2 separate regions of the Homo sapiens genome follow, and region 2 is linked to region 1. The links come from fine-mapping of genetic effects on gene expression. A gene starts in region 1. The other region holds a variant in brackets. All regions are shown on one strand. Distances are from middle to middle.

Region 1 (4,394 bases):
GGCCACCTGCCAGACCCTCTGATACACCCACATAGCCCCTCCATCACCACCATGACCACTACTGTTCCTCACCTGTCTTTATGATGCCAAACAAGCCACAGTCCCCAAGCAAGAACCCTGCTCTCAGTTTTCCAGCCCCACCTTCCTCTTTTTTTTAACATCATTGTCACCATGACCTGAAGTTTCACCTCCTAAATCTCACACACAGCTACACTCCCGTCCACACACCAGATGTCACATTTTGGATGTTTCTAACTGTTGAAATAAACAAAGACCAATGAAATGAGAAAAGCCAAGGCTACTTACTCAAAGCTCACTATAGCAAGAGAGACTCAATGCAAGCCGGGAGTGGGAGAGTTTTATAGCAAAAGAAAAGGAAGGCTTCAGGCGTGCCCTGGTTGGAGGCTCCTGTTCGTAGGTGGGTGAACTAGAAGTGGGCATCCTATGTGATTGGTTAGGGTGCGTATCTGCCTTTCTCTGGTTGTTCTTAAATCAGAAGCAGGAGCAAAAATGAGGAAAGCTGTCTGTTATTAATCAAACCCTGGCCATTTGGGACTGCTCATTACAGAAGTTATTGTTTTTACTTCCTGGATTGTCAGTCCAGATAGCAATCTGGCTTCCTGTGGGTCTGACAGACAGCAGGCTGGCTTCCTGCTGTATGGGTTGTTTATTGTAGATAAGGGGGTTGGTTTCCTGGGCAGGTTCTGGGGCAGAGTTCTATTTGTATACATGATCTGGCCATTGTTCGAATGAATATCCAGTCTCTCATTACCTTAACAACTCCCTCAGAACACCCGAACTGTGTGTTCAGCGGCCCACTCTTCAACTCCATTTGGGGGTCTCTGGGACATCACAGGCTCAACTTGGCCAAAACCTAACTTCTACTGCTTCCATGGAAAATTCCTCCTAAAACCAACTTCTCAGTTCATAAAGCTGGATTCATCAAACCAAAAACCATGGATTCTTCCCTCCTCTTTCTCACCCTCCACATCGGAAAATTTGGTCAGCTTGACTTAAAAGACATCAAGTTCCCAATCACTTCCTCTACCTCCAGTCCTCACTCTGGTCCGGCCAGCCGCAGCACTGGCCTGGGCTATTCCATTAGGCTACTCCTTGGCATCCCTGCTTGCGGCTCACTCCATATTCAGTTCTCCACTGTGCATCCACAGGGAGCCTGTTAAGACCTGAGTCACAGCATCTTCCTCCTCTGCCCTAAACCTTCCATGGCTCCCAACACCCTCAGAACAGAGGCCCAGCTCTGCCGTTCTGAGCTGTCTTCAGCCCACCTGCTCTCTGGTTCCAGCAGACATAATATTAATAACACTGACCTGGGTGGGGTTCCTTGAACACTCCCAACTCAGTCTCCACACCGTGCCCCACCCCACCCCCAAGCTTTTGCGCACGCTGGTTCCTGTGCCTACAAAGCCCTTTCTCCCTCCATCCCATTACATTTCAGCAACGGAAGCCACTTTATATAAACCCTGCCCTGATTCAGGATCCTAGCTGGGAGCAACTCCCTTCCAGGGTCCCCTGACTCAAAAGCAAGGAAATGGGAAAGGCGAAAAGTCCTAGAACAAAGCCATCTTTTGCGTCTCAACACCGAGAACAGAAGCGTGGGGGGCCGACAGCGAAGGGCCTAACGTCCAAGCACTCACCTGCGCGGGGTCCCGCAGCGCCGCCGCTGCCATCGGAGTCTGTGGTCAGAGCAGGGCCCCACGGTGCGGGAAACCACGGGGCGGGGGTAGGGGGTCTCGCAGGCTGAGGCTACCACCCACCTGGCCGTGCCCCAGACGAGGTGTGACCCCGGGCTGAGGGTCGCACTCCTAGCCTCAGTCTCCCCCGTGCAAAATGCGCAAGGGGCCCGGGGCGCAGGCTCCGGGGGCGCCGAGAGCGCGCAGCTCCGCTGGGTACCCCCGTTGCAAGGGGTCACGGCTGGTGCAAAGGCGCGGAGGGGGTCCCGGCCTCACTGTCCCCCTCGCGGTCCGGGAAAGCCGGCGGGGCAGCTTCACGGGCGTAGCCCCAGCCGCCCCGCCCCCAACTCGGGGTCCCCAGCTCCTGGGGACTCAGCCTCCCCGCCGGGAAATGACCTGCGAGGCTGCAGTGCAGGAAGTTCCGGCCCCCACCGTGGCGGCCGGGAGAGTTGCCCTCTCCCGTACTGTCATTGGCCTGGCGCCAGCCGCTGGTGCACAGGCAGGGCCTGGGGATCGCGAGTTTCTGCCCAGCCTCTCGTCAGGCTGAGGGTCCAGGGCGGGAAGGAGAGCGGATCTCGTCGGGTCTCCACCGCCGCCGCCTGCAGCCCTCGGGCCTTCCCCTTAAAGGGGCCGCTCCCGAGCCTGCAGCCGCCCGCGCTAAACCCCGCCCACCCTCCGAGGTCCAGGAGGAGAGCCCCAGTGCTCTTCCTGCGCGTGTGGGCATCGGCCAGCCGCTTCACCCCTAAGGGACCTAAATTCACACTGGAAAATGGGGATAGTACCCAATGGGCGGGGTCTTTGCGTTGTAATATTAAATGTCGCTCTGATTCAGGGCTTCTCAAACCAGCAACATCAGCATCACCTGGGGACTGGCTGAAAATGCAGGTTCTGGGGCAACAACTTAAATCTAAGGACTCAGAAATTCTGGGGATGGGATTCAGCCTTCTCTACTTTTTGCGGGGGGGGCGGGGGGGATGGGTCTCGTTCTGTTGTCCAGGCTGGAGTGCAGTGGCCTGATCATAGCTCACTGCAGCCTCCATCTCGGGCTCAAGCTATCCTCCTGCCTCAGCCTACCAGGTAGATGGGATACAGGCGTGCACCATCATACACAGCTAATTTTAAAATTTTTTGTAGAGACTGGATCTCCCTGTGATGCCTAGGCTGGTCTCAAACTCCTGAGCTCAAGTGATCCTCTCACCTCGGCCTCCCAAAGTGTTGGGAATTGCAGGAGTGAGCCATGGTGCCAGGCCTCCTTCTCTGTTTTAACAAGCCCTCTGGGGACTCCAATGCTGGCTCCAACTTTACAGCAGGGACTCTCATTGAAATCCAGTAAATAAAATGGGAAAAATAACACTACATTGTTGCAGGAAGTCAGGGACCCCGAACGGAGGGACCTGCTGAAGCCGTGACAGAAGAACATTAATTGTGAAGATTTCATGGACATTTATTAGTTCCCCAAATTAATACTTTTATAATTTCTTATGCCTGTCTTTACTGCAATCTCTGAACATAAATTGTGAAGATTTCATGGACATGTATCGCTTCCCCAATCAATACTCTTGTGATTTCCTATGCCTGACTTTACTTTAATCTCTTAATCCTGTCATCTTCGTAAGCTGAGGATGTATGTCATCTCAGGACCCTGTGATGATTGCGTTAACTGCACAGATTGTTTGTAGGGCATGTGTGTTTGAACAATATGAAATCTGGGCACCTTAAGAACAGGATAACAGCGATTTTCAGGGAACAAGGGAGATAACCTTAAAGTCTGGCTGCCTGTGGGACGGGCAGGACAGAGCCATATTTCTCCTATTACCAAAAACGGGTAAGAGAAATATCGCTGAATTCTTTCCCCAGTAAGGAATATTAATAATTAACAGCCCTGGGAAAATAATGCATTCCCAGGGCAGTGCCTCTAAAATGGCTGCCCTGGGAGTGTCTGCCTTATGCACATGTAGATAGGGATGAAACACACCCTAGTCTCCTGCAGCGCCCCCAGGCTTGCTAGGATTAGGAAATTCCAGCCTGGCGAACTCTAGTCAGACCAGTTCTCTGCTCTTGAACCCTGTTAAGATGTTTATAAATGACAATGCGTGCACAGCAGGACATGGAAGCTCATGAGTGATTCTAGTTTTGCCCTGACCTTGTGATCTCGCCCTGACCTTCTGCCTTGTGATCTTTTGTTGCCCTTAAAGCATGTGATCTCTGTGACCCACACCCTATTCGTACACTCCCTCCCCTTTGAAAATTGCCAATAAAAACTTGCTGGTTTTATGGCTCGGGGGCATCACGGAACCTGCTGACATGTGATGTCTCCCCCAGACACCCAGCTTTAAAATTTATCTCTTTTGTACTCTTTCCCTTTATTTCTCAGACCAGCCGACACTTAGGGAAAATAGAAAAGAACCCACATTGAATTATCGGGGGTGGGTTCCCCCGATACTACATGTCATATGGTGAAACCACCTTTGTAAAAATTATAACTGAGAAAATTATGACAGTGAGAGATCTGACCTAACCAACTCCATCTTGCTTCTAACCTCCAAGCTGTCCTTGTTCGTTCCTGAGCATAGGCCTAACTAACTTTGGGAGAAACTCAGTTTACAGTTTAACTTTGAAGCAAAGATAACAGCCCTTTCCCTCTAGGCCGGGCATGGTGGTTCACCCCTGTAATCCCAGCACTTTGGCAGGCCGAGGCAGGCG
Region 2 (4,394 bases), 21 kb before region 1:
GGTCCTCTTGTGTAGCGTGACATTAAAAGGCTTGGAGGTAGAAGGAAACAGTCCAAAGTTCTGTTTCAGTGGTGACTGAAGTTTTGTTTTGTTTTGTTTTGAGATGGAGTCTCACTCTGTTGCCCAGGCTGGAGTGCAATGGCGCGATCTTGGCTTACTGCAGCCTCTGCCTCCCAGGTTCAAGTGATTCTCCTGCCTCAGCCTCCCAAGTAGCTGGGATTACAAGTGCCCGCCACCATGCCCAGCTAATTTTTGTATTTTTAGTAGAGACAGGGTTTTGCCATGTTGGCCAGGCTGGTCTTGAACTCCTGACTTCATGATCTGCCCACTGGTTTCCCAAAGTGCTGGGATTACAGGCGTGAGCCACTGCACCCAGCCTGACTGAAGTTTTTTGACACAAACTCAGGTCCAGTTTCTCTCCTCTTTGAATTAAGTTATCTAAAGGTCTCTTTTTCTGACAAGGGGGATGAATGGGCCACAGTGATCCTAGGAGATAACAGGAACCATCCTAAAGGCAGGTATTGAGTTCAGTGAGTTAACATATCTAATCCAGTTTTGCAGTTGGTTTTTGTGTACAAACCCAGTGCTTTAGTGGCCACCCCAGTGATCTCGTCCTATGGGCTTATCAAATAATATGGCAATATTTTAAAAGGTGGTAAACAGTTTTGTCTCAATATATCAAAGGAGGCAATGTGTATCTTATCAGCAGATATCTAATGTCTGGCCGTGCTCCTCATTAAAAGACTGTTTACTAGATTACAGTGATAATGGTCCAACCCCACATTATTGAGTATGTTTCTCCTTGTGACTAAACAATAATCTGTGTGATCTTAGTTTATTCTCAAGAAGTACACGTTTATTCAGTTTAGCAGTATATCTTGTCATGGTTTTAACAACAAATGATAATTCTCATTGGAATTATAAAATATCATTCTTTGTATGGAGATATTTTATTACGATTATTTCTTTTGTATAGAAGGCCGGACTCATTGGCTCACACCTGTAATCCCAGCACTTTGGGAGGGTGAAGTGGGAGGACGACTTGAGCCTAGGAATTGGAGACCAGCCTGGGCAATGTGGCAAGACCCCATCTCTATAAAAATTACAAAAAAATTAGCTGGACATGGTGGCACACACCTGTAGTCCCAGCTATCCAGGAGGCTGCGGTGGGAGGGAATCACCTGAGCCTGGGAGGTTGAGGCTGCATTGAGCTGTGGTTGTGCCACTGCACTCCAGCCGGGGCAAGAGTGAGATCCTATCCAAAAAAAAAAAGAAAAGAAAAAAAGAAAAAGAAAACCAGTAGGAAACCAAAGAATGAAGTGCTAGAAAGTAAAGACATGGACGTCCTTAGACAAAGTTAGCAGTTTACCATATTCCTGATAAAGTGACATTTTATTTTAAACATGGATAGGATAAGAAAGCTCCAGTCTACAAACAAAACATGCCAGAAGATTTTTAGGCGATGATGCCACCTGCACATGGAACCAAAAGGTGAGAAAATTTGTAAGAACGTCAAGGTGCTAAAAGGGGGAAATTAGGTCAGTATGGGACAGAGGGAGTTGTGTCTTGATATGAGGTCTGAGAGGTGAGCAGGGACAATATTATCTGTGGAAAGATACATGGATTTTAATGTAAGCGCCACAAGAAACCCCTAGAAGGAACAATAAAATATGGATTATAAAAATTTCATCTGCATCAGAAACATTTGTTAGAAAGGTTGACAGTATTGATGTCCAGGAACTTCCCCTATGTCTGATTCAGAGGGGCGGGATGCTGCTTGAACATCCATTTTTTAACAGGCTCTTCAAAGATTATTATCCACACCTAAATGAAAACTGTTTCACTAATCACCAACCTTACTATTTTACATAAACACTTGTTAATCTCTGCATTCCTTTTTTTTTTTTTGAATTTCATAATGGTGTTTTAATATTACTGAGCTATTTATTTCTAGTTGGTGTTATTTTCAGTTTTTCTCTTTTCTTCCCTAGAATTTTTTTTCAAATAGAAAAATAAGATATTTTTAAAATTTTCTTTCAGATTTGCAGTTGGAAGATGATACAATCGGCTGTAAAGAAATGCCCACCTCTGAAAACTGTCCATCTTTTGCTCTACATCAGAAAATAAGTAGACAGAAACCACGTGAATGTC[A/G]GGAATATGGAAAGACCCTTTGTCAAGACTCAAAGCCTGTTCAACATGAAAGAATACATAGTAGTGAAAAACCCAACAGATGTAAAGAATGTGGGAAGAACTTTAGTAATGGACATCAACTCACCATACATCAGAGATTGCATGTTGGTGAGAAACCCTATAAATATGAAAAATGTGGGAAGGCCTTTATCAGTGGCTCAGCCTTTGTTAAGCATGGGAGAATTCACACTGGTGAGAAGCCACTCAAATGTAAGCAATGTGGAAAGACTATTAGTGGTAGCTATCAACTTACAGTACATAAGAGTATTCATACTGGGAAGAAACCATATGAGTGCGGGGAATGTGGGAAAGCTTTTCTAGTATATGGAAAGCTTACCCGGCATCAGAGTACTCACACTGGTGAAAAACCCTTTGGGTGTGAGGAGTGTGGGAAGGCCTTCAGTACCTTTTCATACCTGGTTCAACATCAGCGAATTCATACCAGTGAAAAACCTTACGAATGCAAAGAATGTGGGAAGGCCTTTAGCACTAGCTCACCCCTTGCTAAGCATCAGAGAATTCATACTGGCGAGAAACCCTATGAATGTAAGGAGTGTGGGAAGTCCTTCACTGTGTATGGACAGCTTACTCGACATCAGAGTATTCATACTGGTGAGAAACCTTTTGAATGTAAGGAATGTGGAAAGGCCTTTAGACTTAGTTCCTTCCTTCATGCACATCAGCGAATTCATGCAGAGATAAAGCCCTACGGATGCAAGGAATGCGGGAGAACCTTCAGTCGTGCCTCATATCTTGTTCAACATGGAAGACTTCACACTGGCGAGAAGCCCTATGAATGTAAGGAGTGTGGCAAGGCCTTTAGTACTGGCTCATACCTTGTTCAGCATCAGAGGATCCATACTGGGGAGAAACCCTATGAATGTAAGGAATGTGGCAAAGCCTTTATTAGTCGCCATCAGCTTACCGTACATCAAAGGGTTCATACTGGAGAGAAACCCTATGAGTGTAAGGAATGTGGCAAGGCCTTCAGAGTGCACGTACATCTCACACAGCATCGGAAAATTCATACTGATGTAAAGCCCTATGAATGTAAGGAATGTGGAAAGACTTTTAGTCGAGCCTCGTACCTTGTACAACATAGCAGAATCCATACTGGTAAGAAGCCCTATGAGTGTAAGGAGTGTGGCAAGGCCTTCAGTTCTGGCTCATACCTTGTTCAGCATCAAAGAATTCATACTGGGGAGAAACCCTATGAATGTAACAAATGTGGGAAAGCCTTTACTGTTTATGGACAACTTATTGGACATCAGAGTGTTCACACTGGTGAGAAACCTTTTGAATGTAAGGAATGCGGGAAGGCCTTTAGACTTAATTCATTCCTTACTGAACATCAGCGGGTACACACTGGTGAGAAACCCTTTAAATGCAAAAAATGTGGGAAGACCTTTAGATACAGTTCAGCCCTTAAAGTGCATCTGAGAAAACATATGAGTGTTATACCCTAAGAGTCTGAGGAGTGTGGGAAGTGCTTCGTGTGTGGCTCAAACATTGTTGAACATCGGGGAATTTATGCTGGTAGGAAACTTTCAAATGTGAAGAATATTGGCAGGTCTATTCTCATCTTATAATTCATAATATAACTCAGAAAACATAAGAATATTCCTTTGTCATTTATAGGTTTGTAATACCAATATTTATACTGGTGGACCATTCAGAAAAAGTGGGAAACGTTATTACTTAATGGTTACAGCACTGACAGCATGAACTTTTATATGATGCATTTATTCTAATGTGATTGTATGAACAAGTGAATAAAAAACCTTGGACCTCCTAAACCACTGCTGAACTTCAAATAATTCATTATTTTTTAAAACCAGTTAACAATGTAATGAAAGCCTTTAGCCATGGCACTCACGTTAACTATCATCATTGTTATTCCACTGCCTTGCAGCCAGTTAGATATTAGGCACTACACTTATCACCTTACAGCATTGTTTTAAAATGGTGATAATAGAACCTACATTCTTATTAAAAAAAAAAAAAAAAAGCCAGGCTTGGTGGCTGAAGCCTGTAATCCCAGCACTTTGGGAGGCTGAGGCAGGCGGATCACGAGGTCAGGAGATCAAGACCATCCTGGCTAACACGGTGAAACCCCCATCTCCACTAAAAATACAAAAAAAAATAGCTGGGTGTGGTGGCGGGCACCTGTAGTCCCAGCTACTCAGGAGGCTGAGACAGGAGAA

What was found. PIP is the estimated chance that this variant, and not a neighbour inherited with it, causes the effect. A credible set is the group of variants that fine-mapping cannot tell apart.
Region 2: its variant is the best candidate, but not a certain one, in a credible set for the expression of ZNF792 in breast (GTEx, PIP 0.53).

What each region holds. Positions count from the first base shown.
Region 1 is chr19:34,961,975-34,966,368 of GRCh38, forward strand. ZNF792 (zinc finger protein 792) reads right to left here and starts at 2,255. Exons shown (of 4, transcript NM_175872.5): 1 at 1,656-2,255. The coding sequence starts at 1,688. LOC124904699 (a long non-coding RNA gene) reads left to right here and starts at 1,452. Exons shown (of 2, transcript XR_007067236.1): 1 at 1,452-1,699. RefSeq lists silencers at 1,597-1,646, 1,757-2,016.
Region 2 is chr19:34,941,183-34,945,576 of GRCh38, forward strand. It overlaps ZNF30 (zinc finger protein 30), which reads left to right. Exons shown (of 5, transcript NM_194325.3): 5 at 2,041-3,986. The coding sequence ends at 3,656. Among named protein-coding and RNA genes, the nearest start is that of ZNF30, 16 kb to the left of the region's middle. The variant A/G (reference allele first, on the strand shown) is at 2,152.